Homo sapiens: one gene and its partners. The protein of the gene in region 3 interacts with the protein of the main gene of each other region in a biochemical or structural test. Each region holds a gene or a part of one and is shown on either strand. Other genes may lie near its edges. The genes, in order: TAMALIN, CYTH2 and DOCK1.

The links.
Region 1: the proteins of DOCK1 (region 3) and TAMALIN form a complex in vitro, tested with the Homo sapiens proteins (one study listed by BioGRID).
Region 2: the proteins of DOCK1 (region 3) and CYTH2 form a complex in vitro, tested with the Homo sapiens proteins (one study listed by BioGRID).

The regions. Positions count from the first base shown.
Region 1 is NC_000012.12:52,009,139-52,016,619, forward strand, and holds the end of TAMALIN (protein TAMALIN), read left to right. Parts: intron 1-51; coding exon 52-101; intron 102-1,353; exon of another isoform or gene 1,354-1,424; intron 1,425-1,742; coding exon 1,743-1,797; intron 1,798-1,900; coding exon 1,901-2,003; exon of another isoform or gene 2,004-2,044; coding exon of another isoform or gene 2,045-2,069; intron 2,070-4,548; coding exon 4,549-4,642; intron 4,643-4,738; coding exon 4,739-4,805; intron 4,806-4,996; coding exon 4,997-5,063; intron 5,064-5,555; coding exon 5,556-6,061; 3' UTR 6,062-6,751; downstream 6,752-7,481. UniProt on the Homo sapiens protein: Plays a role in intracellular trafficking and contributes to the macromolecular organization of group 1 metabotropic glutamate receptors (mGluRs) at synapses.
Region 2 is NC_000019.10:48,471,912-48,479,948, forward strand, and holds part of CYTH2 (cytohesin-2), read left to right. Parts: intron 1-413; coding exon 414-532; intron 533-1,386; coding exon 1,387-1,467; intron 1,468-1,993; coding exon 1,994-2,106; intron 2,107-2,270; coding exon 2,271-2,419; intron 2,420-2,926; coding exon 2,927-3,038; intron 3,039-5,805; coding exon of another isoform or gene 5,806-5,808; intron 5,809-6,157; coding exon 6,158-6,234; intron 6,235-6,363; coding exon 6,364-6,435; intron 6,436-6,526; coding exon 6,527-6,681; intron 6,682-7,211; coding exon 7,212-7,299; 3' UTR 7,300-8,037. UniProt on the Homo sapiens protein: Acts as a guanine-nucleotide exchange factor (GEF). Promotes guanine-nucleotide exchange on ARF1, ARF3 and ARF6. Activates ARF factors through replacement of GDP with GTP.
Region 3 is NC_000010.11:126,900,701-126,908,982, forward strand, and holds the start of DOCK1 (dedicator of cytokinesis protein 1), read left to right. Parts: upstream 1-4,727; 5' UTR 4,728-4,817; coding exon 4,818-4,863; intron 4,864-5,030; exon of another isoform or gene 5,031-8,282. UniProt on the Homo sapiens protein: Involved in cytoskeletal rearrangements required for phagocytosis of apoptotic cells and cell motility. Along with DOCK1, mediates CRK/CRKL regulation of epithelial and endothelial cell spreading and migration on type IV collagen.

The DNA of each region.
Region 1 (7,481 bases), on a different chromosome or scaffold from region 3:
CTCAAGGACAGTCCCGCCTTACCTGCTCCTTCTGACCATCTTACTGCCCAGGGCTCAGGATTCCGCTGGAAGAATCTCAGCCAGAGTCCTGAACAGCAGCGGTGAGTCACCAACACCCAGCCCCTGCCATGGTCCAAAGGGGTGAGGTGCTGGGTTGGGGGGTGCCAGGACAGCATCTCAGCCTAGCGAGGGTAGTCATTCTCCTAGCCTTTAAACATGGCTCCCCCGCTGGGAGTGAGGGCAGGTGGGGGTGAGGGCTGTGTGAAGGGGGTGGCAGAGAAAGGAGGTAGGGACTTTTGAGTCATTAGGTGCTCTTCAACACACCCCCAGTCCCTGCCAGTTACCCCTCCCTGGGGAGATCTGGATGAACGGATGTGGGAGTTGGGAGGGGGTGTAGGCAAAGTCTATGGGGAACGTCCTAACCCAGGCCTCCTGGGCTCCCCTGAGCCCTCCTAGCCTTGGCAAACCCCACGGGCCCAGACCTTAGCCAGGCTGTGTCCAGCTGCTTGGGGCTGGCTGCCCCTGCCTCCAGAATGTCAGTCCTCTTCTGGTCCCAGCCTGTGGCAGCCCTCTTAGGAGGGATCTGAGCGTGGGCAGAAGTAGGTGCTGACTCCAGGCCCTGGGACCCCACAGTTTCCCTTCTCTACTCATGTCCCATCCCTGATTTGGGCTTGACTTTCTCTAAAATGGATCAGCAAACTGACCTGCTAGCCAGATTGGCCTGTTTGGCCCTTGAGCTAATAATTTTTAAAGAGTTGTAAAAATAAAAACAAATAACAATATATGACAGAGATCATAAGGGGCCTGCAAAGAAAGCCTAAAGTATTTACCATTTGGCCCTTTGCAGAAAAAGTTTGCTGACCCTTCCAAAAAACCCTAGAACATTGGGGTAGACGCGGAACTCCCAGCCACCCTGCTCCCTGCCCCAATAGTACAGAGAGGGGAAAGGCCTGCTGTTCAGAGTGAGAGGGGCTCGAGCTGGAGTGGGGAGGTGCTGCTCAGCATTTGGGGGAATCTCTGGGTCAGGCTGGAAGCGGAGAAGCCTGGTCTCCAGGGCCTTTCCGAGGCTGAGCTACTTGAAGGGGCCTTTGGAGGCTGCTTTAACTGTGCCTCTGGCTGGGCGGGAAGGAAGGGGGTGGGAGTGGGCAGAGGAAACTCTGGGCTCCCCCAGCAGGCGAGGATCTGGAGCAGCTCCAGACCATTGTGTCCAGCGGGCAGGCCTTCAGTGCGGGAAGGGGCGGCCTCGAGGCTCCCCTCCCCCAGCCCCCACATCTGGTGGGCTGGCCCCAGCATAGCTGGGAGGAGCAGCTGTGGTCTTGCTGAGCCTCGTGACTGGCCTCTGGGGGTGGGGCCAGTCCTCTCTCCAAAGCTGTGGAACAGAGGAGGCTCCAGGCTGTGGCTGAATTTCGGGCCTTAGCTAGTCAGTAAGTGGTACTGTAGGGCTCACTGGAAAGCTGGGATGGGGCTAAAAAACTCAGCCGGCTCATCCTTCAGGGGACCGGCCCTTCTCTGTGCTTCCCTCCCACCACTAGAGGCTGGATTGGTTCTCTGTGGCTCCATGAGGCTGATTTCAATTGGGTATGGGAAAGACATTCCAATAATCTGTGATGAGACTGAGCTGTCACTGGAGACAGAGTCCTGCTGGAATGTTCTAGACCAGTTGCCAATATCCAGGGAGGCCCAAGCTATGGGACTTCTACACCTTTTAATCCTAATTGTCTTGACCCCTGTGTCTCTTGCAGGAAAGTGCTGACGTTGGAGAAGGAGGATAACCAGACCTTCGGCTTTGAGATCCAGGTGGGAGAAGCTGCACACAGGGGTCAGGGGGGTTGGATGACCAGCCTGAGGGATGAACGGACTTGTCCCAACCCTGGGCTGAGGGTCCCCTTGTCCATTACAGACTTATGGCCTTCACCACCGGGAGGAGCAGCGTGTGGAAATGGTGACCTTTGTCTGCCGAGTTCATGAGTCTAGCCCTGCCCAGCTGGCTGGGCTCACACCAGGTGGGGCCTGAGCCCAGGACACCCAGGTCTGGGAAGGGGATATGACCTTACTCCCAAGCAAAGGGGGTGAGCAATCTCTCCTGAAATCAATTCCTCTTCCTTTTCCTTCTTTGAGAAGGCCAGAAAGAAGAATGGATAGAATCTGGGCTTTGGATCTAGGCAAATTTGCCATGTACTGTGTGATCTTGCACAGCCCCATCTACAAAATGAGGGTAATAATGCATCCAAACATCACAGTGCGGCAAGGGGATTCCCTGGGCACACTGCCAGGGCCTAATTAATGGTGGATGATGCTGCTGCTGCTCTGATTCCTCCCAGCAACCCTGGCAGTCAGCATGGGCAGGAGCCAGGGAAGAAGCAACATTCCATTAAGTCTGTTTGATATTGGGGATCAGGCCAATCCTGCCCCAAAATGGGCCCAGTGCTGAGGAACCGATGTTACTCCCTTTTAAAAAATTAGAAACTTTTTTTTTTTTTAAGAGACAGGGCCTCAGTCTGTCACCCAGGCTAGAGTGCAGTGGCGTAATCATAACTCACTATAACCTTGAACTCCTGGGCTCAAGCGATCCTCCTCTTGCCTCTGCCTCCCAAAGCAATATGTTACTTCCTCTAACAAGGAAATTATGCTTCAGCAGGAGATCCCTGGATTGAGCAGATCTAGAGTCCCCAGGTTCCAGGAAGGGCAGCCTGAAACTGTATGAATCAATCCCCCCTCCACCATCTTTGCCCCTAAGCCCCTACCTCCTTCCCACTTACCAGCAGCCCGTGCTAGCTATCTTAGTCCATTTTCTGTTACCATAACAGAATACCTGATACTGGGTAATTATAAAGAAAAGAGGTTTATTTAGCTCATGGTTCTGGAGGCTGGGAAGTTCAAGACTGGGTGGCCGCATCAGGTGAGGGCCTCATGCTGCGTTCTGACATGATGGATGGCATCTCATGGCAGGAACGCCTGCAAGAGTGGTGAGTAGGCACACGCAAAAGAGACAAAACATGGGTGATCTTGCTTTATAGCAACCCACTCGCCAGGTAACTAAACCAGTCCTACCAGAGCAAGAACTCACTCCCCAAAAACAGCATGGATCCCTTCACTGGGCAGATCCTTCATGGCCCAAATGCCACTTTTTTTGAGATGGAGTTTCGCTCTTGTTGCCCAGGCTGGAGTGCAATGGCATGATCTCAGCTCACTGCAGCCTCTGCCTCCCAGATTCAAGCAATTCTCCTGCCTCAGCCTCCCGAGTAGCTGGGATTACAGGCACTGGCCACCAAGCCCAGCTCATTTTTGTATTTTTAGTAGAGATGGGGTTTTGCCTTGTTGGCCAGGCTGGTCTCGAACTCCTGACCTCAGGTGATCCACCCGCCTCGGCCTCCCAAAGTGCTGGGATTACAGGTGTGAGCCACGGCGCTCGGCCCCAAATGCCTCTTAAAGGTCCTACCATCTCTCAGCACTGTTACGTTGGGGATGAAGCCTCAACATGAGTTTTGGGGACAAACAATATTTAAATGGTAGCAGTAGCCAAGTGGTATACTACAACTTCTCAAAGTAGTTTCAAATCCACTCTCCCTCCCCATCATCCCTGAAGCATCCACAGCAGGGATCCATACCCCTTTTTACAGATAGGAATGGGGCCCTGACATGGGGCACACTGTGCTTGAGGTCAGGAAGCTCTCCAGTGGTGCAGGGTAGCAGAACTATCCCTCTGGGGGCCAGTCATTCCCTGTGCTTCTCTCCCACCACCAGAGGCTGGACTGATTATCTGTGGATCCATGAGGCCATGCCATGCCTGGGGCCAGGGTCGGTTCCCAGCTGGGTGCTGCTCACCTGCTCTTCCCTGAATTGACTGGGTCTTATGGCCAGCGTGGACTGGACAGAAATAACCAAATCTGAGGGTAGCCCAGGGTCCTGGGTGGGCTTAGCTTTGGGACAGAACTTCTTTTTTTTTTTTTTTTTTTTGAGACGGAGTCTCGCTCTGTCGCCCAGGCTGGAGTGCAGTGGCGCGATCTCGGCTCACTGCAAGCTCCGCCTCCCGGGTTCACGCCATTCTCCTGCCTCAGCCTCCCGAGTAGCTGGGACTACAGGCGCCTGCTACCACGCCCGGCTAATTTTTTGTATTTTTAGTAGAGACGGGGTTTCACCGTGTTAGCCAGGATGGTCTCGATCTCCTGACCTCGTGATCCGCCCGCCTCGGCCTCCCAAAGTGCTGGGATTACAGGCGTGAGCCACCGCGCCCGGCCGGACAGAACTTCTTGAGGGCAGAGTGAGGGTGTTGGGTGTGTGAGGTCCCCACCCTTTGGCTGGGGTGCTGGGCGTGGACAACCTGGTAGTCACTACAGGCCCACAAGAATGGCTGTGGTTCTGTGTGTTTGGATCGAGTATGAGAGATGTCAGAGGAGATCTACAGAGAACCATGAGGAGTTGGAGGAGGGAGTTCAGGAGTATTCCCTGGAGTTACTACCCACCCTTCTCCCCTTTCTGGCTAAGGTAGGAGGCTGGTATTCTAGCATGCCCCATGGAGCAAATCTAACCCCCTTGTCTGCCTGGCAGGGGACACCATCGCCAGCGTCAATGGCCTGAATGTGGAAGGCATCCGGCATCGAGAGATTGTGGACATCATTAAGGCGTCAGGCAATGTTCTCAGGTATGTCTGGGAGCCGAGGTGCCTGAATTCCTGAGCTCAGCCTCTTGGTATTTCCTCAGCCTGTGGCTCACTCAGGCTTTGATTCTCCAACCTCAGACTGGAAACTCTATATGGGACATCAATTCGGAAGGCAGAACTGGAGGCTCGTCTGCAGTACCTGAAGGTAGGGGAACCTAGATAACGTCCAGCCTCCACCCTCCTCTTCCCAAGCCTCTGCCCTGTGGGGGGTCACTTACAGCTGAATCTCCTGTAACTGAAGATTTCTTTTGTCTACTCCCTGATCCCTCGTCTGTACCCACGTCCTGCTAGTTTCCTGCTAGCTTGTGACAGTGGGGTGGGGACTGTCTCTTGCAGCAAACCCTGTATGAGAAGTGGGGAGAGTACAGGTCCCTAATGGTGCAGGAGCAGCGGCTGGTGCATGGTGAGTAGATCCCGGGGTGTGAGGGGCCACTTGTTCTGCTACAGACACCCCATCTGCGCTTCCCCCTCAGAACTGGCGGGTTCTAGTAAAGAACGGTTTACTAGTAAACCTCCACAGTAAAGCAAGGTTTGTTGAGCTACTACTACTTTGGGTACTGCCGCAGCCACATTTCTGGTTATTCTCACACTAGCCCTCTGCAGGTAAGTAACAGATAGTGTCATCTTCACTTTACAGAGGGGAACACCAGGGCTCAAAGAGTTTGTGTCAATTATTTCCGAGGCCCGTTTGTGCTAAGCGGCCCCCATAAGGATCTGAGTGATAATTCCTGATTTGCGGGTGAGGGAAGTAGGGTCTCAGGTTTGTGCCTGGCCAGGGCCACAGAGATGGTCAGCAGGACGGAGCGGGGACGCCCCGCCCATGCCCTCCGACCCTTTGCAGAGGCCACCACGGTCCAGGCCTGACCCGCCCCCTACCTCTCCCGTCTCTGCGCAGGCCTGGTGGTGAAGGACCCCAGCATCTACGACACGCTGGAGTCGGTGCGCTCCTGCCTCTACGGCGCGGGCCTGCTCCCGGGCTCGCTGCCCTTCGGGCCTCTGCTCGCCGTGCCCGGGCGTCCCCGCGGAGGCGCCCGACGGGCCAGGGGCGACGCCGACGACGCCGTCTACCACACGTGCTTCTTCGGGGACTCCGAGCCGCCGGCGCTGCCGCCCCCGCCGCCCCCGGCCCGCGCCTTCGGCCCGGGCCCCGCCGAGACCCCTGCCGTGGGGCCGGGCCCTGGGCCGCGGGCCGCGCTGAGCCGCAGCGCCAGTGTGCGGTGCGCGGGCCCTGGCGGGGGCGGAGGCGGGGGCGCGCCGGGCGCGCTCTGGACTGAGGCTCGCGAGCAGGCCCTATGCGGCCCCGGCCTGCGCAAAACCAAGTACCGCAGCTTCCGCCGGCGGCTGCTCAAGTTCATCCCCGGACTCAACCGCTCCCTGGAGGAGGAGGAGAGCCAGCTGTAGGGGCGGGGGCGGGCAGGGAGGTATTTATTTATTTATTCGCAACAGCCAGCGCTAAAAGAGGGGGAGGCCGAGCCAAGAGGACCCCAGGAGCCCAGAGCAGCGGGAGAGGGTCCTTCCTAGCCTCGGCCCGCCGGGTCGGTTCCTGGCTGGTGTCTGCTGAGGGAGTGGGGGGCCCAGCCCCTTCTCTTCTCCCCCGCCAAACCACAGTGGGAGCTGGGGCAGGGGGAGAGCCAGGCAATCGGGGGCCAAAGATGGGGGTGCTCGCCTACAGTCTGCATCTGTAGTGCCTTGTGGGGTATCCAGGAACACCCTCCCAGCAGGGGATGGGAACCCTGTCCCATGAAGCCCTCTCCTCAGCTTTACTTGCTCCCCCGCCCTTAGCCTTGGGGAGAAATGGCCCGTGGTGGGCTGACCCCCCACCCTCCACACACACAGTTCCATGACCCAGCGGGCCCCCAGGGGCATCAGGTGCTGGTCCTCCTCCCTCCTGGCCTCGACCCCTAAGGGCTTCGCCCCTCCCAGGGGCCTGTAACTAAGTCGGGTCCTGCCAGGCAGGGGGCCTGTGTTCTGTGCCCCTTGGGAGACAGGAACTGGCGAGTTCAGGTGGGGTGGGGACAGCACAGACTGTTCCACCGTTGTGCATATTGTTGCTTCTGAACCACAAACTGTATAAATGGATGGTTTTTTGCATCTGTGTCAGTGTGGTGACTGCCTGAGGGGGAGGATTGGGCTGGGGCAAGCTCTGACTCCACCATCCCAACCCCCGCCCAACGCACACACATCTTGTTTTCTTGCAGCCTGAAGCCAGGGAAATAGGCTGGGAGATTTAAACTTACATGTATGGGCCTGAGCTGGAGGCCCCACGCTTCTTCACAACTTGAGCCTCCCTCCCCAGATACCCAAGCAGGTGGTGACCAAGGCTTGCCTCAAGTCCTTAGCCATCCCTGTAGAAATACGTGTGCTTGGCATGCCTTTCTTCCCAGCTTCTGAGGTCTCCCTTGAGGGGCACAAGCCAGATCTGTAGGGACCTGAGGCATTACCACCTGGCCTGTGAGGGGCCCAATCACGGCTCACTCTGTTGTTCTAGCAGTCTTCAGCGGTTTCCCACCCCAGGATGAGATTTTTCTTTTTTGAGATGGAGTCTCCCTCTGTTGCCCAGGCTGGAGTGCAGTGGCCCGATCTCAGTTCATTGTAACCTCTGTCTCCTGGATTCAAGTGATTCTCCCGCCTCAGCCTCCCGAGTAGCTGAGGTTACAGGCAGGCGCCACCACACCCAGCTAATTGTTGTATTTTTAGTAGAGACGGGGTTTCACCATGTTGGCCAGGCTGGTCTCGAACTCCTGACCTCAGGTGATCTGCCTGCCTTGGCCTCCCAAAATGCTGAGATTACATGCGTGAGCCACCGCGCCCGGCCTCCCAG
Region 2 (8,037 bases), on a different chromosome or scaffold from region 3:
CAGGTGTGTTGGGGCATGCCTATAGTCCCAGCTTCTGAGGAGGCCGAAGTGAGAGGATCCCTTGAGCCCAGCAGTTCGAAGCTGCAATGAGCTGTGATCACGCCACTGCACTCCAGTCTGCAATAGAGCGAGACCAGGTCTCAGAAAAAAGAGAAAATGTACTGAGCACCTGTGCCTTGCCAGACCCTGTTGTTGGTGCTGGAATTAACCAGGCAAAGGCAGAGAGGGTAGGCCATGAAGTGCAAAGGCCATGAGTTGGGAAGAATGCTATTTAAGACCTGTGAGAAGGCTGAAAATGAAACCTGGCCCTGGTCTGTTGAGGGTGGGGGTAGGTCTGGATGCTGAGGTTCCCAGGGAGGTGAGTGGGGTGGCTTTCTGGCCCTCAGCACTGAGACCTTGTCCCCACCCACCAGGGGATCCAGTTCTTGGTGGAGAATGAACTGCTGCAGAACACACCCGAGGAGATCGCCCGCTTCCTGTACAAGGGCGAGGGGCTGAACAAGACAGCCATCGGGGACTACCTGGGGGAGAGGTACGGTCACCACTCAGCTCCTGTGGGGCCCCTCCCTCCCACCCCCCAGACCCAGCTCCTGCCCTCACACTGGCAGCTCACAGGTGGAACAGCCCTGCAGCCTCCCCGCAGAGGGGCCCTGGCAGATCAGCCTTCTGACTGGACTGTGACAGAATGGACTGACATGGGCTAGGGGAGCCTGCGGCCAACCGAGAGCATCTGGGGATGTGGGGCCTTCTGGAATTACCTGGCAGTTGTGGGGAAGCATCCATTTATGTCTGAGAAGGGTAGAGAACATCTCTCAAGGATCATGGGAGCTTGAGAACCGTGGGTAGACCATGGCTGTGCATAGGCACTGGGTGGCCATCTGGGAGCTGTGGGGACCGCTGGGCCCTTGTGGGAGCTTAGGAGTTGTGGGGGTCATTTGGAAGCCTAGGGTGCACAGGACTGGACATCAGATGATTGGAGGCCATCTGTGGACGTCTGGGAATCAGGGATTTATAGAGATCTGGGGTGCTTGGGAAGCATCTCTGGATGTCTGGGGGATGTGGGGGCTGTGTCTGGATACCTGGGGAGCATGGGGATCATTTGAGAGAGGTGACAGTAGGTAGCATACATGTTTGCGGCATTTCTCCCAACTGTACAAAGGTCTGGCCTAAGCAGGGTTCCCAAGCCAGATATTCCTCCCAAGAGTGTGTTCTGAGCATCCCCCACCCTGGGGGCAGGCCTGTGTGGGAGTCCAGCAGGAAACTTCACCCTCGGCAGTGGGCAGCTGTGGTGCAGTAGAGGGGGCACGACTTCCCCAGGGCATTGCCCTTTGCCCATTCCTGCCCCATCCTTTCCAAACTGTATGTGTCTTTGTCCCATCCTTCCAGGGAAGAACTGAACCTGGCAGTGCTCCATGCTTTTGTGGATCTGCATGAGTTCACCGACCTCAATCTGGTGCAGGCCCTCAGGTGAGTGAGGGGGAGGGGTTTGGAACGCCAGGAATGTACCTGTCAGGGCCTTCCTAGTTACAAGTGACAAACCTTACTCAAGAAAAAAACAGAAACAAGCAAAACAGAAACAAAAACTAGGGAACTGAGTGTGTCCTGCACCATAAAAGTTCAGGGTTATGGCCTCCTTCAGGTATGGCTATATCCAGGAGCTCAAATGGTGGTCAGAAAGTCGACTTTCTTTGCCTCTTGTATTTGCCACTGTGTCAGCATTGCTCTCTGCAGACCCGCTTACCTGATAACAAGCCTCAACCAACCCCCAGACCTGTCTAGCGAACTTAGCAGAAAGAGGCTATTTCTGTAGGGATTCACAACACTCCCGTGGCCAATGCCCATTGGTGAGACTGGATCATGTGACCATACCTGAAACAACTGCTGAGGCCGGAAGGTCGGGATTCCTCGTGGACCAGTTCCTAACACAGGGACTGAGAGTGGGGACAGGCTCCCACCAGCCCTGGCATCCATTCCTGGCCCCTCCCCAACCCAGGCAGTTTCTATGGAGCTTTCGCCTACCCGGAGAGGCCCAGAAAATTGACCGGATGATGGAGGCCTTCGCCCAGCGATACTGCCTGTGCAACCCTGGGGTTTTCCAGTCCACAGGTGCGGGCCCCAAATCCTGGGTCCTGGGAAAGAGGAGACTGGGGCCCAGACTCCTAGGTCTGAGGGAGGGAGGGGGCTGGGAGCTGGGAATCCTGGGTCCTGGGGAATGGGGGCACTGGGGACTGACATGCCTGGGTCGTCACCACCTGCCCTGTCCGGTGCAGACACGTGCTATGTGCTGTCCTTCGCCGTCATCATGCTCAACACCAGTCTCCACAATCCCAATGTCCGGGACAAGCCGGGCCTGGAGCGCTTTGTGGCCATGAACCGGGGCATCAACGAGGGCGGGGACCTGCCTGAGGAGCTGCTCAGGGTCAGTCCCCCTTCCCTGCCCCTCAGCCCTGCCCCTCTTCCTGCCACAGACACCCCCGCCCCACCTGTGGTCTCCTAGTGCCCAAGCTGTCTGCCCTCACCCCCAAGATGGTGCGATCATGCCAACTCGTGTGTGATCTTTTTCTCTCTCTCTGGGTGCTTCTCTTCTTGACTGTCTCTCTCAGGCTTTGGCCCTGACAATTTTGGCCTGTCTGTCTTCTCTGTCTCTGGCTGTTGGGCTTTCCGGCCCTCGATTGGCCTCATTCCCCATCTGTCTGTTTCTCTGAGGACGTAGCCGGCTCCTCCACCTATCACCAGGGCATCTCTTCTTTCCTCCGCCACCTCAGCCTCCCTCCACTTCTCTGCCTTTCACTTCCCTCTCCTCCCCACTACCCCTCTCTCTTCCCCACTATGAGTCATCCCATCCCTGGTCTCGCTGCCCCCCACCCTGAGTAACCCTGGGGGGCCCCAGGGGGCTCGAATGGCTAATGCAGCCTTTACTCCTCAGAACCTGTACGACAGCATCCGAAATGAGCCCTTCAAGATTCCTGAGGATGACGGGAATGACCTGACCCACACCTTCTTCAACCCGGACCGGGAGGGCTGGCTCCTGAAGCTGGGTACGTGCCCTCCCGACCCCGCTGGTCCCTCCGCAGGAGGACATTTGTGGGCCTGGGCCCTGGACTCAGCTTCCGCACACACCTGCTGCCTGAACTGAGGCAAATGATTCGACCTCTCTGAACCTCAGTTTTCCACACCCAAAAAATGGGGCTGAAAATAAAATCAGGCCTGTGTGCTGGGCCTGGCCTGTAGTAAGTACTTCCCAACCCCTTCTCTTGACCCACAAATGTTGATGGAGCCCTTCTGTGCCAGGCCCTGAGCTGGGCTGAGGAGGCAGTGAGAGGCAGCTGACATTGTCCTTTCGTGGGAGAAGAGTTCACTCAGGCTTCTTTCCACTGCGTTAACCCAGCCCGAGGGAGCCAAACCCCTGGAATCTATTCCCCTTGGCAAGAACTCCCAGGGTTCCAGGCAGGACTGACCCCGCACTCCGAGGCATCAGGCCCAGAGCACTTGGCTGATCCAGGTGCCATCCTTCCCGAAACACCACCCACAGGCAGAAAAGAGCCAAACAGGCCAGGAAACCTGTCCCAGATTCTGGCTTCCAGCTGTGGAGGGAATAGCCAGGGCTGGTGCAGATGAGTCGGGAAACCCAGCAGAGATGGAGGGGGGAGTCTTCGTCATAACACGTGGCACTGGCACATTCAAGGTCGGTTAGCATGGATCAGACAGGATCGTAGCATGATGAGGGGTTAGCACAAGGACTAGAGTGGTTCTCAGCCCTGGCTGTACATGAGATTTGCCTGGGCAACTCGAAAACTCCGGTGGCTGGGCCATAGACTCCTGAAGTCAGGCTCTCAGGAGCAGAAGGGCCATCAGTCATCGTTTAAGCTCCTCGGGTGCTCCCAATGCATAGTCAAGGTTGAGAGCTACTGGCCTGGAGCCGTGCCTGGTAACAGTAGGTGCCACCTGCGTGTTAGATGTGGTTTATAATGGAGACACGGTGCACAGCTGCTCCAGAGAGACACATCTGGGCAGTTACAGTCCAGCACAGCAGTGGAGGCTTCCCGCGGCAGCAGGAGAGCCCACAGGAAGCTTTCAGCTCAGTGAAGGGAGTCAAGGTCAGGCTTCTTGGAAGGAGGTTGGACAGGGCAGCTTTGGCCTCTGAGTCTTGGGGGCCTCCCCATGTGGAACTGTGCTCTTAAACCAGGGCATCACCACCTCAACAGATGCCAGGGTTTCCTGGTAAATGTAAAATACACAAGTCAGGCAGGGCACAGGGGCCCACCCCTGTAATTTCAGCACTTTGGGAGGACAAGGCAGGAGGATTGTTAGAGGTCAGGAGTTTGAGACCAACCTGGGCAATATAATGATACCCCCCATCTCTACAAAAAATAAAAAAATTAGCCAGGCATGGTGATGTGGGAGGATTGTTTGAGCTCAAGTGGTCGAGGCTTCAGTGAGTCATGGTTGCGCCACTGCAGTCCAGCCTGGGCAACAGAGCGAGACCCCGTCTCTATAAAATAAAACATGCAAATCACTGTCCAGCCAACACCCCAGTCCAGATCCCTGCATTCGATCCAAGGGAGGCAGACTGCTGGGGGAAATTGAGAGTCCTCGAGGTGCCCCTGGCAGTGAGCGGGCCAGAAAGAGAAGCAGGAAGGCGCCAGCATCACGAGGAACTGCTTCCCTCAAAACTGCTGTCAGGCCAGGCACGGTGGCTCAGGCCTGTAATCCCAGCACTTTGGGAGGCTGAGGCAGGCAGATCACTTGAGGTCAGGAGTTTGAGACCAGCCTGGCCAACATGGTGAAACCCCGTCTCTACTAAAAATACAAAAATTAGCCGGGCGTGGTGGCAGGCACCTGTAATCCCAGCTACTTGGGAGGCTGAGGCACAAGAATTGCTTGAACCCAGGAGGTGGAGCTTGCAGTGAGCCGAGATCACACCATTGCAAATCCAGCCTGGACGACAGAGCGAGACAGTCTCAAAAAAACAAAACAAAACAAAAACTGCTCCTGTGAGCAGTAACTTTCCCATTTCCCAGAGGCTCACGCCTCAGTTTGGTTCTGAGCCCCACCTAAGGCTGCCCAGCCCCAGGGACATCTCTGACCAAAGGGCCTCTGTTCCCTTTGTGCCAGTTAGAGGGACCCCTTCCTTAAAAGATGGAAATACAGGAGTGGAGATTGGTGATGGTGGTTGCTACTCCATGCCTAATAAAAGCCATTCTTACTGTCATTGTTTAACCCTGGGCCCACAAGGAAGCCAGCAGCAGGTCATTTTGCCACAGGAAGGTGTAGGCCCGAGTGAGTCTCCAGGCTGGAGTCCAGAGAGTCCAAGAGAGTGCCCTGAGGTCACACAGCCAGTTTGTGCAGGAGCTGAGATGGGCCCTCACACCCACCTCAGACCAAGGGCTGGGGGTTTTGCCTTCTGTCCTGTGGGGGCCTCCTCCAGGGCAGAGGCACTTTTACCATGTCAAGGGAGGATGCTCCTGGCCTAGGACAGACCCTAGGGGGTAGGCTGGGGCCCTGTACCGAAGCAAGGGGTTTTCAAGGCTGCCACCCGGGGCTCATGGCCCTTGGCCTCTCTGGGAGGGAGGAGCCCCGGCCATCCCCACCCTCGTGGATGTAACTGGTTTTCTTCCCTCTCTCTCCCTCCCCTCCTCTCTGCGTCTTTCCCTCTCTCCTGTGTTTGCCTCTCTGTCCTGCCCCTGCGCACCCCTCCCTGTGCCCACCCTGTTTCTGTCGCCTGCGGCTCTTGGGGGTGCTCCATTCTCCCGCCTTCCCTTCTCCTGCACCTGGTCCTGCCTGCTTTCTCGCTGTCTGCCCCAGGAGGTAGGTACACGACCTGTCTTTGTCTCCCATCACTAGACGAGGGGAGGGGGCTGCCCTGGCGCCCTGGCGCCCTGGCCTCCTGCCCACAGGAGGAGGGGGCTGGGGGCTCAGGCTCCTGGGCTGGGACTGACAGACTCAGAAAATGTGGAGCCCCAAGCTGGGGGTGGACGATTCCTGGAGCCCCAACATGCCTGGCCCTGCTTGTCTGTCTCCCCCAACGCAGCGGCTTTGTCTAGGCCCCAGGAGCCCCACCTCTACCGCTCTTGCTCTGCTTCTCACGCCCCTCCCATCTCCCAGAGGCCCTGTCCCCCTGTTGAGCCCAGGCCCCCTCCCACCCCTTCCCTTTCAGGGGGCCGGGTGAAGACGTGGAAGCGGCGCTGGTTTATCCTCACAGACAACTGCCTCTACTACTTTGAGTACACCACGGTGAGCGTGACCCGACCCGGGCTCTGGGGTCCTGGGCGGAGTGGCTGGGAGCCTGGACTCCTGGGGCTGAGGGAGGTGGGGTGGGGTGAGGACTTGGAAGTCTGAGTTCTGTCCACCTTGCTTCTTCAGGACAAGGAGCCCCGAGGAATCATCCCCCTGGAGAATCTGAGCATCCGAGAGGTGGACGACCCCCGGAAACCGGTAAGACCCTCTCTGTACACCTTCCTGCCAGGGCGGGGCCTCCTCTGCCCAGGGCTGGTTCTTACCTGCGCCCTTCCTCTCTCGTCCCCAGAACTGCTTTGAACTTTACATCCCCAACAACAAGGGGCAGCTCATCAAAGCCTGCAAAACTGAGGCGGACGGCCGAGTGGTGGAGGGAAACCACATGGTGTACCGGATCTCGGCCCCCACGCAGGAGGAGAAGGACGAGTGGATCAAGTCCATCCAGTGAGCCTGGACTCCTGGGCCTGATGGAGGAGGGGCTGGGGCCTGGACTCCTGGGTCTGATGGAGGAGGGGCAGGGGCCTGGATGCCTGGGTCTGATGGAGGAGGGGCTGGGGCCTGGACGCCTGGGTCTGACGGAGGAGGGGCTGGGGCCTGGACTCCTGGGTCTGACGGAGGAGGGGCAGGGGCCTGGACACCTGGGTCTGACGGAGGAGGGGCCGGGGGCCTGGACCCCTGGGTCTGACGGAGGAGGGGCCGGGGGCCTGGACTCCTGGGTCTGACGGAGGAGGGGCCGGGGGCCTGGACTCCTGGGTGTGAGGGAGGAGGGGCCGGGGGCCTGGACTCCTGGGTCTGAGGGAGGAGGGGCCGGGGGCCTGGACTGCTGGGTCTGAGGGAGGAGGGGCCGGGGGCCTGGACTCCTGGGTCTGAGGGAGGAGGGGCCGGGGGTCTGAGACTCCTCCTGGGTATGAGGGAGGAGGGGCTGGAGGCCTGGACTCCTTGGCCCTCATCCTGGGACCCCTCCCCTTCTGCAGGGCGGCTGTGAGTGTGGACCCCTTCTATGAGATGCTGGCAGCGAGAAAGAAGCGGATTTCAGTCAAGAAGAAGCAGGAGCAGCCCTGACCCCCTGCCCCCAACTCCATTATTTATTACGGAGCTGCCCCGCCTGGGTGGCCGGACCCCTGGGCCTTGGGGCTGTGGATCCTGGTTCCCTGTTTGGAAAATTCACCACCTCTAGCTCCTCACTGTTCTTTGTAATTAACACGCTGTTGGTAATCTTATTAATTATTTAACCACTTGGCCTGCTGACCCCCTCATTTCTTGGGGTTGACAGAGTCGAGGTGCTCCGTGGAGCCAGCCTGTTTCCCTGGACAGGGGCCTGGACCCGCCTGTCTCTGGGTGCTGCCTGGGCTGTCCCGGTGGGTCTGTTCTGGTTTCACCCCGAGCCCAGCAGGAGTGGAGTAAAGGGAGAAGGTTAATATGGTGGGAGTCTGGAGTTGGAATTGGCCGGGGACAGAGTTTAGAATGCAGGGATTCAGGGTCAAGGTCTAGCATTCATTCTAGAAGTTACTTGACAGCCATCAGCCAGTTACGCTACAGCCATCAGCTAGTTCCCATCGTTGCTTTCATGGGGCTTGAGGTCTTTGAGGGGCAGGAGATGAAGCTGGTGAGGTTGTGAGCTGGGCCAGGGCTTTGAGGACAACCTGGAGCTGGAAGAACATGCGACCACCTCAGGGAGGGTCAGGGAAGGATGAGTGGGGAGGTGGCCCATGTCCTGCAAGGGCCTTGCTGATGGGATGTCCTGAAGGGCTGGGCAGCCTTAGATCGGGCTAAGAGGGCAGGACTGTGGGCCAGTGCCAG
Region 3 (8,282 bases):
GACTGAGCAATTTTGCTTCATCTTGTTTATTCCTGTAGTATTTTAAATAACAAATACAATGACGGTTCACTTCTAAATACTCCAGCATGCAGCTCTAAAATTTAAGGATCTTTTCCCACCTAACCATAACAACTATTATTATACTTAACAAAATAAAAAAAATACATCATCTAACACCAGTCCATAGTTCAAACCACCTCTTGCCCTTGACATTTTTTTAGTGTTGGATAATTAAAGCAGTTTCCAATTAAGGATAACACAGTGCATTTAAATGTTGTATTTCTTTTCTTTTCTTTTTTTGAGATGGAGTCTTGCTCTGTCACCCAGGCTGGAGTGCAGTGGCGCGATCTCGGCTCACTGCAAGCTCCGCCTCCCGGGTTCACGCCATTCTCCTGCCTCAACCTCCTGAGTAGCTGGGACTACAGGTGCATGCCACCATGCCCGGCTAATTTTTTCTATTTTTAGTAGAGACGGGGTTTCACCATGTTAGCCAGGATGGTCTCGATCTCCTGACCTCATGATCCGCCCACCTCGGCCTACCTAAGTGCTGGGATGACAGGCGTGAGCCACCGCGCCCGGCCAAATGTTGTATTTCTTACATCTTTTAAAATCTAGAACAGCTCTTCTCCACTGGCCCCTTCTTGCTCTATAATATTGACTATTGAAGAGACCAGACTACTACCTGAAAGAATATTCTACCTTCTGGCTTTGTTTCAGTGTCTTTTTTTTTTTTTTTTGAGATGGAGTTTCACTCTTGTTCCCCCAGGCTGGAGTGCAATGGCACGATCTCTGTTCACTGCAACCTCGGCCTCCCGGGTTCCAGTGCTTCTCATGCCTCAGCCTCTTGAGTAGCTGGGATTACAGGTGCCTGCCACCATGCCCAGATATTTTTTTTTAGTAGAGATGGGGTTTCACCACGTTGGCCAGACTAGTCTTGAACTCCTGACCTCAGGTGATCTGCCCATCTCGGCCTCCCAAAGTGCTCAGAGTTACAGGCATGAGCCACGGTGCCTGGCCTGTTTCACTGTATTTCTTATGGTGTCACTTGTTCCTCAACCTCCTCTATTTCCTGTAAGCACGAAGTTGGGTCTAAAGTCTTGAATATACACTTTTGGGCTGGGTGGCATTGTGCATTGTGACTACATGCCTGGTCATCCAGTATGATGCCCAGATCTCCCACTGAATCCAAGAGGCAGTGGGCATAGGCCTTGTTCCTCTCCTTTCAAAGGGCAAAAAATCTGTGGTCAGGCCCCTTTTCCTGCATAAAATCTCCACATCCCTGTTCCATTCTCATCTCTCCCCACCGACTGAGAAACATGCCCCATTGACTCACTGTGCCTTCTGGTACCTCCACCAGGCAAGATTTTGCTGAATTTACCTCCTGAATTTGCAGTGCACATGTGTGAAATTTTTTGGAATTAAAAAAATTAAAACTGTACTTTTCAAGATTTAAAACTGTAATATTGATTGTGTTCTTCATGGCCCCAAAGCAAGATTCTGTTGTATCTTGGAGGAGGGGGGTCACTACTCTGAAATCCCAGTGATGGGCAGCACTGAGCAACTGAGAGCCTCAGCATTCTTGGGCTTGTTCACACCCACAAGCTTGGCACAGATCCAAGTCCTGCAAGATGCCTGGGAGGGCAACTGAGACCTGTGGCCCAGCCACATTGACTCAGGAGGTAAAAATGTCAACAGGCCACAACCTCCAGGGCTCCTGGAATTGGAGACGAAGCCAGTTCTGAGCTTATGCAACCATAGGACAGTGAGAGAGGGCCATGGACTCGATTTAGAGCCACAAGATGAGAGCACTGCTGGAGCACCGTGGGGATGCTGACAAATCTTCTCAGGGCTTCAAGGACCGTGGCTACAGGTACATCTCAGCCAAACTTGGGCACATGTTGCAATCAAGGGACTGAAGCTACAACCACCTGGCCCGTGGTCCACCTGGAGTTTTGTTTTGTTTGTTTTTGAGATGGAGTCTCACTCTGTCACCCAGGCAGGAGTGCAGCGGTGCGATCTTGCTTCACTGCAATCTCCACCTCCTGGGTTCAAACAATTCTCCTGCCTCAGCCTCCTGAGTAGCTGGGACTACAGGTATGCGCACCCACGCCCAGCTAATTTTTGTATTTTTAGTACAGACAGGGTTTCTACTAAAACCCTGGTTGGCCAGGCTGACCTCGAGCTCCTGACCTCAAGTGATCTGCCTGCCTCAGCCTCCCAAAATGCTGGCTGGGATTACAAGCATGGGCCACTGTGCCCGGCCCCACCTGGAGTTTTAAAATTCTGATTTATAAATTTATTATATGACAGTCTACCAAAAGTATGCAAATCCGGCACTACACTTATTTATGCATTCAGTGAGTCACCTTTATCTGAGTGCAAGTGGCAACTGTTCTAGAAAATGGGAACCATGAGGTTATCAAAGAACCTGGAGGTAGGGTCAGATGAGGAAGCACATCATTATGATGTCTTACACATGCAGTCATGTCTCCTCTTATAATCCTAAGACTCACCTGTGAGATTCCTATTACAGCCCCTAGTTTACATGTAGGAATATCAGAACCCCAAGGTTTAGAAACAGAACGGCCAGAAACAGGAGGAGGATGGCCATGCAGCTGGGCGTGGCAAGGCCAGGCCTCCCAAGTCTGCATGACTCTTAAGCTCCTGGCCATTCGTTACAGCACGCCATCTCCAATGCAGAATCACACCAACAGAACTGAAACTGCACATTAAAGAGAAGGCGAGTGTCACCAAAATCTGTTTCCCAGGCTTCTTTGCAGAATTCCAAATTCCTAGCACGACCAATAAGGCCCTTCTTCTACCTCTGCAGCCTCAATTTATGTCACTTTCCTGTTGTTCCCTATGCTTCGGCCATCCTGGCCTTTCTGTGCTCTGAAGGAGTGGTGCTCCTTCCTAAACCAGGGCCTTTTCACGTGCTGTTCCCACTCCAGTTCACCTAGCTGGTTTCTGCTTATCCTTAAAGTCTGGGTTTATCTTATTTCCTCAAGGGAGGCCTCCCTGCTCTGGAGCAGGTCAGGCCACCATGTCCTTTACCGTAGAGCACCCTACTTGTCCTGGACAGCACCTTCACAGATGCTTCTCCTTCAAGGGGTCAGAGTCACCAGGCCACCACTACAGCGCCTGAGCCCCGGAGGTTTCTGATTTCCACAGAAAGCTTCAAGTGCATGCTGTGTGTGAGTGAGCCTGGCCACTTCCTCTGTGGGACTTCAGTTCCTTATCAGTAAAACAGAGCCCGTGGCTTTCCATGAATGTGGGGTTGACTTACCAGAATGCTCAGGTCCCACGTTATCCTCTTGAACGCAGCAGCTTTCCTCTAACCCACGAAAATGGAAAAGCTCCTGTGCCATTCCCAAATACTTATTTAATCTGCATTCTGGGTGGCCCCTAGGGCAGGTGACGGGCATTCTCTACCGCAGGATGGTGCCCCACCTGGTCCTCCCCAGGCCCTGTGGCCATCCTGGCCACCTCCCTGTGGGCTCTCCCAGCCCTGCTGTTCAGCACTGTCCCTACCTCACAGAGGTAGGGACCTCTTTTTCTTACCTTCTTCCTTTTCTTACCTTCGTTCCTCCAATCCCTGACGGCCCCCAGACCTACTGTAGTTGTCTCTGTGTCTTCGGAGAGAAGACACCCCATTAATGTGCCATGAAACCAAATTTATTCCATTTAAAGGGCTGCCTTCATTCGGAGGCTTTGTCCATGTCTTGGTTTTAACCTCTCTTTTCTGAAATTACAGTAAAAATAAATAGGTGTGTGTTGCTTTAACTTTTCCCTTGGAGAAATCTGAAGCCCCCACCTTTTACTGTCATGGGAAACACCAGGGCCTGAGAAGAACTCCCACCTCGGGCGAGGATGCCGTTCCTGAGCCCCACGCGTGGCCTGGGCTTTCCTTTCCCTACTTCTCTCTTCCCCCGACTTCAGCAGATCCTGAGTCCCACAACTATTCTAGCATTAGCTTCTGCAAGCCCAGCTGGGCTGAGGTTTCTGCGGCTGCTTCCTCTTGGTCTCTCTGGAAAACTCCACTCATTCAGCACCCAAGCAAGAGGTCACCTGTCTGGAACGCACTCCCTCGGCAGCGCTGTGCCACCTCTTTCCACCCCATTTGAGTGGCCGGCACTTACCTGTGCTGTTTGTTACCTGACGTGTCCCTTCTCCCACCTACCAGGCAGTTGGTGCGGCGCTCCCAGCACACTCGGGCAATGAGTGGGCAGGCGCTCAGGTAACGTTTGTCGAATGAATGAATGAGCCACGTGCTCAGGAGGACCCTTTCCAGAGCCTCTGCTGGTTTGTTCTGCTCCGGGACTCTCCACCAGGGAGAAATCCGAGCTGGGGACCTCGCACCACCAGGCTCCGGCCTAAGCCCGCGCCTTGCAAGCCGCCCGTTTCCTACCTCCCGTAGAAACCCCCCGTCCGTCCCGCCCCCCTAAGGGCGCACCCCTCTCACGGCGTGAGCGCCAGCCCCGGGAGCTCCAGGAACTCAGGAGAACCCCGCGGGGGTGCCCGGGTGCGGAGCGCGGGGCTGGGCGCACTGGGACAGAGGAAGGGGAGCCCCGGCGACCGCGGGGTCGGGGCCCAGGGTCCGCGCCGAGGGCGGGCGCAGAGCCCGCGGCCGTCCCGCCTCCCGCCGGCGCTCCCGGCCTTTCCCATCCGGCCCGCGACGCTCCGCCCGCCCCGTCCCACATGACGCCGCCTCCGCCGCAAACTTTTTCCTCCCCATCCTGTCGCGGCTCGAAAGGAATGGAAAATGGCGGCCTAGACGCGGAGTTTCCTGCCCGACCCGCGGCGGCTCCGGCGGCGCCATGACGCGCTGGGTGCCCACCAAGCGCGAGGAGAAGTACGGCGTGGGTGAGCAGCGCCGCCGCCGCCGCGCCTCTCGCCCCAAGCCCAGGCTCCGGCGGGGCGGGTGTGCCGGGCGCCTGTTGCCGCCGCCCCGAGCGGCCGCCGGGCCGGGGAGAGGCGCTTCCGCCCGCGCCCGCGCCGCCGCCCCGCTCGCAATGCCCGGCGACCCCGGCCGCCCCGCGCCCCCGGCGGCGTCAGCTCCAGCCCCGGGGATGCGGGTCGGGAACACGAGGGGGTGGGGTGGGAATGGGGGCGGGCGCGTCCCTCCCTAGGGTGTCCCCTCCGACGCCCGCTCCTCTGGACCTCTGCCGTGGAGCCCCCCGGGCTACCCCCAACTCCCCGGCCCCGGCCGCTGCTATCTGCGCGGCTGGGCCCGTCAGGGAAGCCCAGGGGTCACTGTCTCGCGGCGGCTTCTGCTTCTTGGATGAACTTGCGTCCCGCGTCCGGGCTCTGGGTGGGCGGGCTCAGGTCGGCGCGGTCCCAGCGGATAATTCCGCCCTTTCCCGGCGGGGAGGAGGGGGCGCGACCTGGGTGGCCAGCGCCCCTTGCCCCTCGGCGGTCTCGCTGGGGACCGTGTGGGACCTTGGAGAGAAGGCGAGCGGCCGAGCGCCCCAGTGGCCCCAGGCCTGGAGACCCTTCCGGGAGAGCGGGGGCCTGTTTTTGCTCCGCGGCTCTTTGTCGCTTCCGAGGGGGGATGGAAGGAGTCGGGTTGCAAGTTTACATTTCGGACCCGAGTGCGCATTCCTGAGAGGGAGGCTTTCCCTTGCGGCTGAATAGACGGGCCCGTCCGCGTGGGACCCGCATCCTTGCGCCCCGGGGACCCGCAGCCGGTCGCCGAGGCCTGCGGACGCCCACCTCTTCGTGATCTGCGCGCCTGGTGTCGGGACTGGGCCGTGGCTACTCTCCTGCTCTCCCGGGTCCGGGATCTTCCCAGTTGGTTTTCGGGCTTGCTATTCCCCGTCCCACCATCCACAGACATCCTTGACCGCCTGCCTCATCCAGGCCACTCGACCCGACTGGGAAGACCTTTGGTGGTCTCGCCTCCCACAGCCCAGGCTGTGTCCTCCAAGGGCACCGTCTCAGCAGCAGCCCCGCGCCCATTCTGTGCCTGGCCCGTGCTGGACCTGCCCGACCCTCTGCTGGTGTGGTTCGAATCCTGGCTCTCTGACTTTTGGGAAGCGCCCTGGCAGCCCTTGTCCCCGGAGCGCTCTCCTTTCTGTGAACAGTTGCTTCTCTCTGCTGTCAATGACTTACAGTATGCCCTGACCACGGAGCCAGCTGGACAGTGGTCACGGGGACAGTCCTGGGACAGCCCTGGGTCCTACCGGGCCTGCACTTAGCTTGTTCCACATGCTGGGAGGCATAGGGGGCCTCCTTGCTTCAGGACCATTATGACTGAGCTTCCTCCCCATCTCCCCATTTTGCAGATGAGGAAACTGAGGCCCAGACACATTCACAAAAGTGCAGGAGAGCTCATCTGACTGCAGACTCAGTGTGTAACCTGCACCCTGTGCACCACCTAATGGATTCAGTCTGGGGCACTTGGCACGGGCCTTCAGTCTGCATCAGAGGCGAGAGGTTCGGGGTGGATATTCCACCTGAGAATGCTTGGGTTGTGGCGACAGTGGGGGTCCCTGCGGGGGTAGTGTGTAGAGGAGAGAGCTGAGGACTGACTCCCAGGGAACCTAGCACCAGCACACGCAGAGAGAGAGGAAGAGGTGGATAGGCAGGAGAGGCAGGAGGCTGGCAGAGGAGCAGGCATCCCATAGCCCTGGCCCTGCTGAGGAAGCAACTTAGGTGCCCATGGCCAGGGTGCAGTAGTGGCCATTGGGGGTGTAGTGGGGGCCATCGGGGTGCAGTGGGGGCCATCACTGCTCCCATTCTACAGAGGCAAGGAAGAGGTGGATTGCTTGCCTGAGGTCACATCACCAGTAAGTGGTGCCTCCTGGGTGTGAAGTGTGGCCGCCCTGGGTTCAGCTGCCACAGTGTCCTGTGCTTGCCTGCAGATGGGGAGGGCTTCTCTTTGGGACGCCACATTTTAAGAGACCTTGTTACCCTTCGTCTGCCCCCAGAGAGACCTGGATGGTGTCAGTTAGGATCCTATAGTGTAGCTGGATGGTCTGGAGAAGACTGAAAAGAATGTTCGTAGATGGGAGAACGGGGTCTCCTTGCTGGGGAGGAGGCTGAGGGCCAGAACAGGGCGGTGCGCTTGAGTCTCACACCTTCCAGAAGCTTCACCAGCGCTCATGGTGGTGACTTCTAACATCACACCTCTTGCTAATACTTTGGTTTTAAGAAAACTCCATGTTTGATTATTAAGAAAAAATAAATTTAAAAAAGTTAAAAAAAGAAAAAATAGAAAACTGTTGGAAAATTTTAAAAGGCGAAAAGTATCTGGGATGGTTTTGCCAGGAAATGCTAGGAAAGATGTGAAGGGCTGAAGGTAGAGAAGAGAGTGGCTGCTGTGCTTCCTCTCACTGGGTGCAGATGACAGCTTGCTGGGTAGACAGTAATGAGACAGCACCACTCCATCGGCATCCAGAGGCACTTTAACCAGAGTCCCCCATCAGGGAGGGTGGGAGGGGAGCTGAGCATGAGCGCAATGGGGCCATCCCAGGCTCCCCACTTGTCTGCAAGTGTGCAGTGGGAGGATTTTAGTGGTTCTCACGAAGGATGCTGACTGGGAAGGATGTAGGTGCTGGGATGTAGGGATTTATTGCCAGTAGGTGATTGGCTGTTTCCACCTAAGGGAAAATTACTGGAGGACCCCTCCACCATCCTTACCAACTCCAGCATTTTTCGGAGCTTAACAACAGGGCTGTGTTTCCCTGGAGGCGCTCTGGTGGCTCTGTGGGTGGACCACACTTCCACTCTGGCCACTTGGCCCATGAACGAATCACGAGGGGTAAGAAAATGATAAAACTCCATCTCATTTGGAAACATGAATCACAGCTTATTGTTTGCAAGTACTTGGAATCTGTTAGAAGCATTGTTTGTAAATGAGATACTTCAGTTGTATATTTATTTTGTAAAATTGGGAAAGGAGTAAACAGCTGATCTGGGGTTCCTTCTGCAAAGGCAGGAAATGCTGGTTCCTCCCAATTCATTCCACTGGGGGCTGCCTGTGAAATTTACCAGCCCGCGTTTCCCCCTTGGTTTTGAGTTGGTGGGTCATGTTTACGGGCCTGGCATATTAACAGGCATAAACCTTGACTCAGCTGTCACACTGGCCAGATGATCTTTTCTCTCACAGCCCAGTAGGCAGTTTTATGTCCCGACGTCAATAAAATTATGTTGCCATGGATCCTGTTCCTAAGATTAGGTGAAAAGATGCAGTATGTTCTAGAATCACACGTGAGGACCATGTGCTCACTCACTCACATCTCAACAATGGTGTTGAAGGCAGAATAATGGTCCCCAAAAAG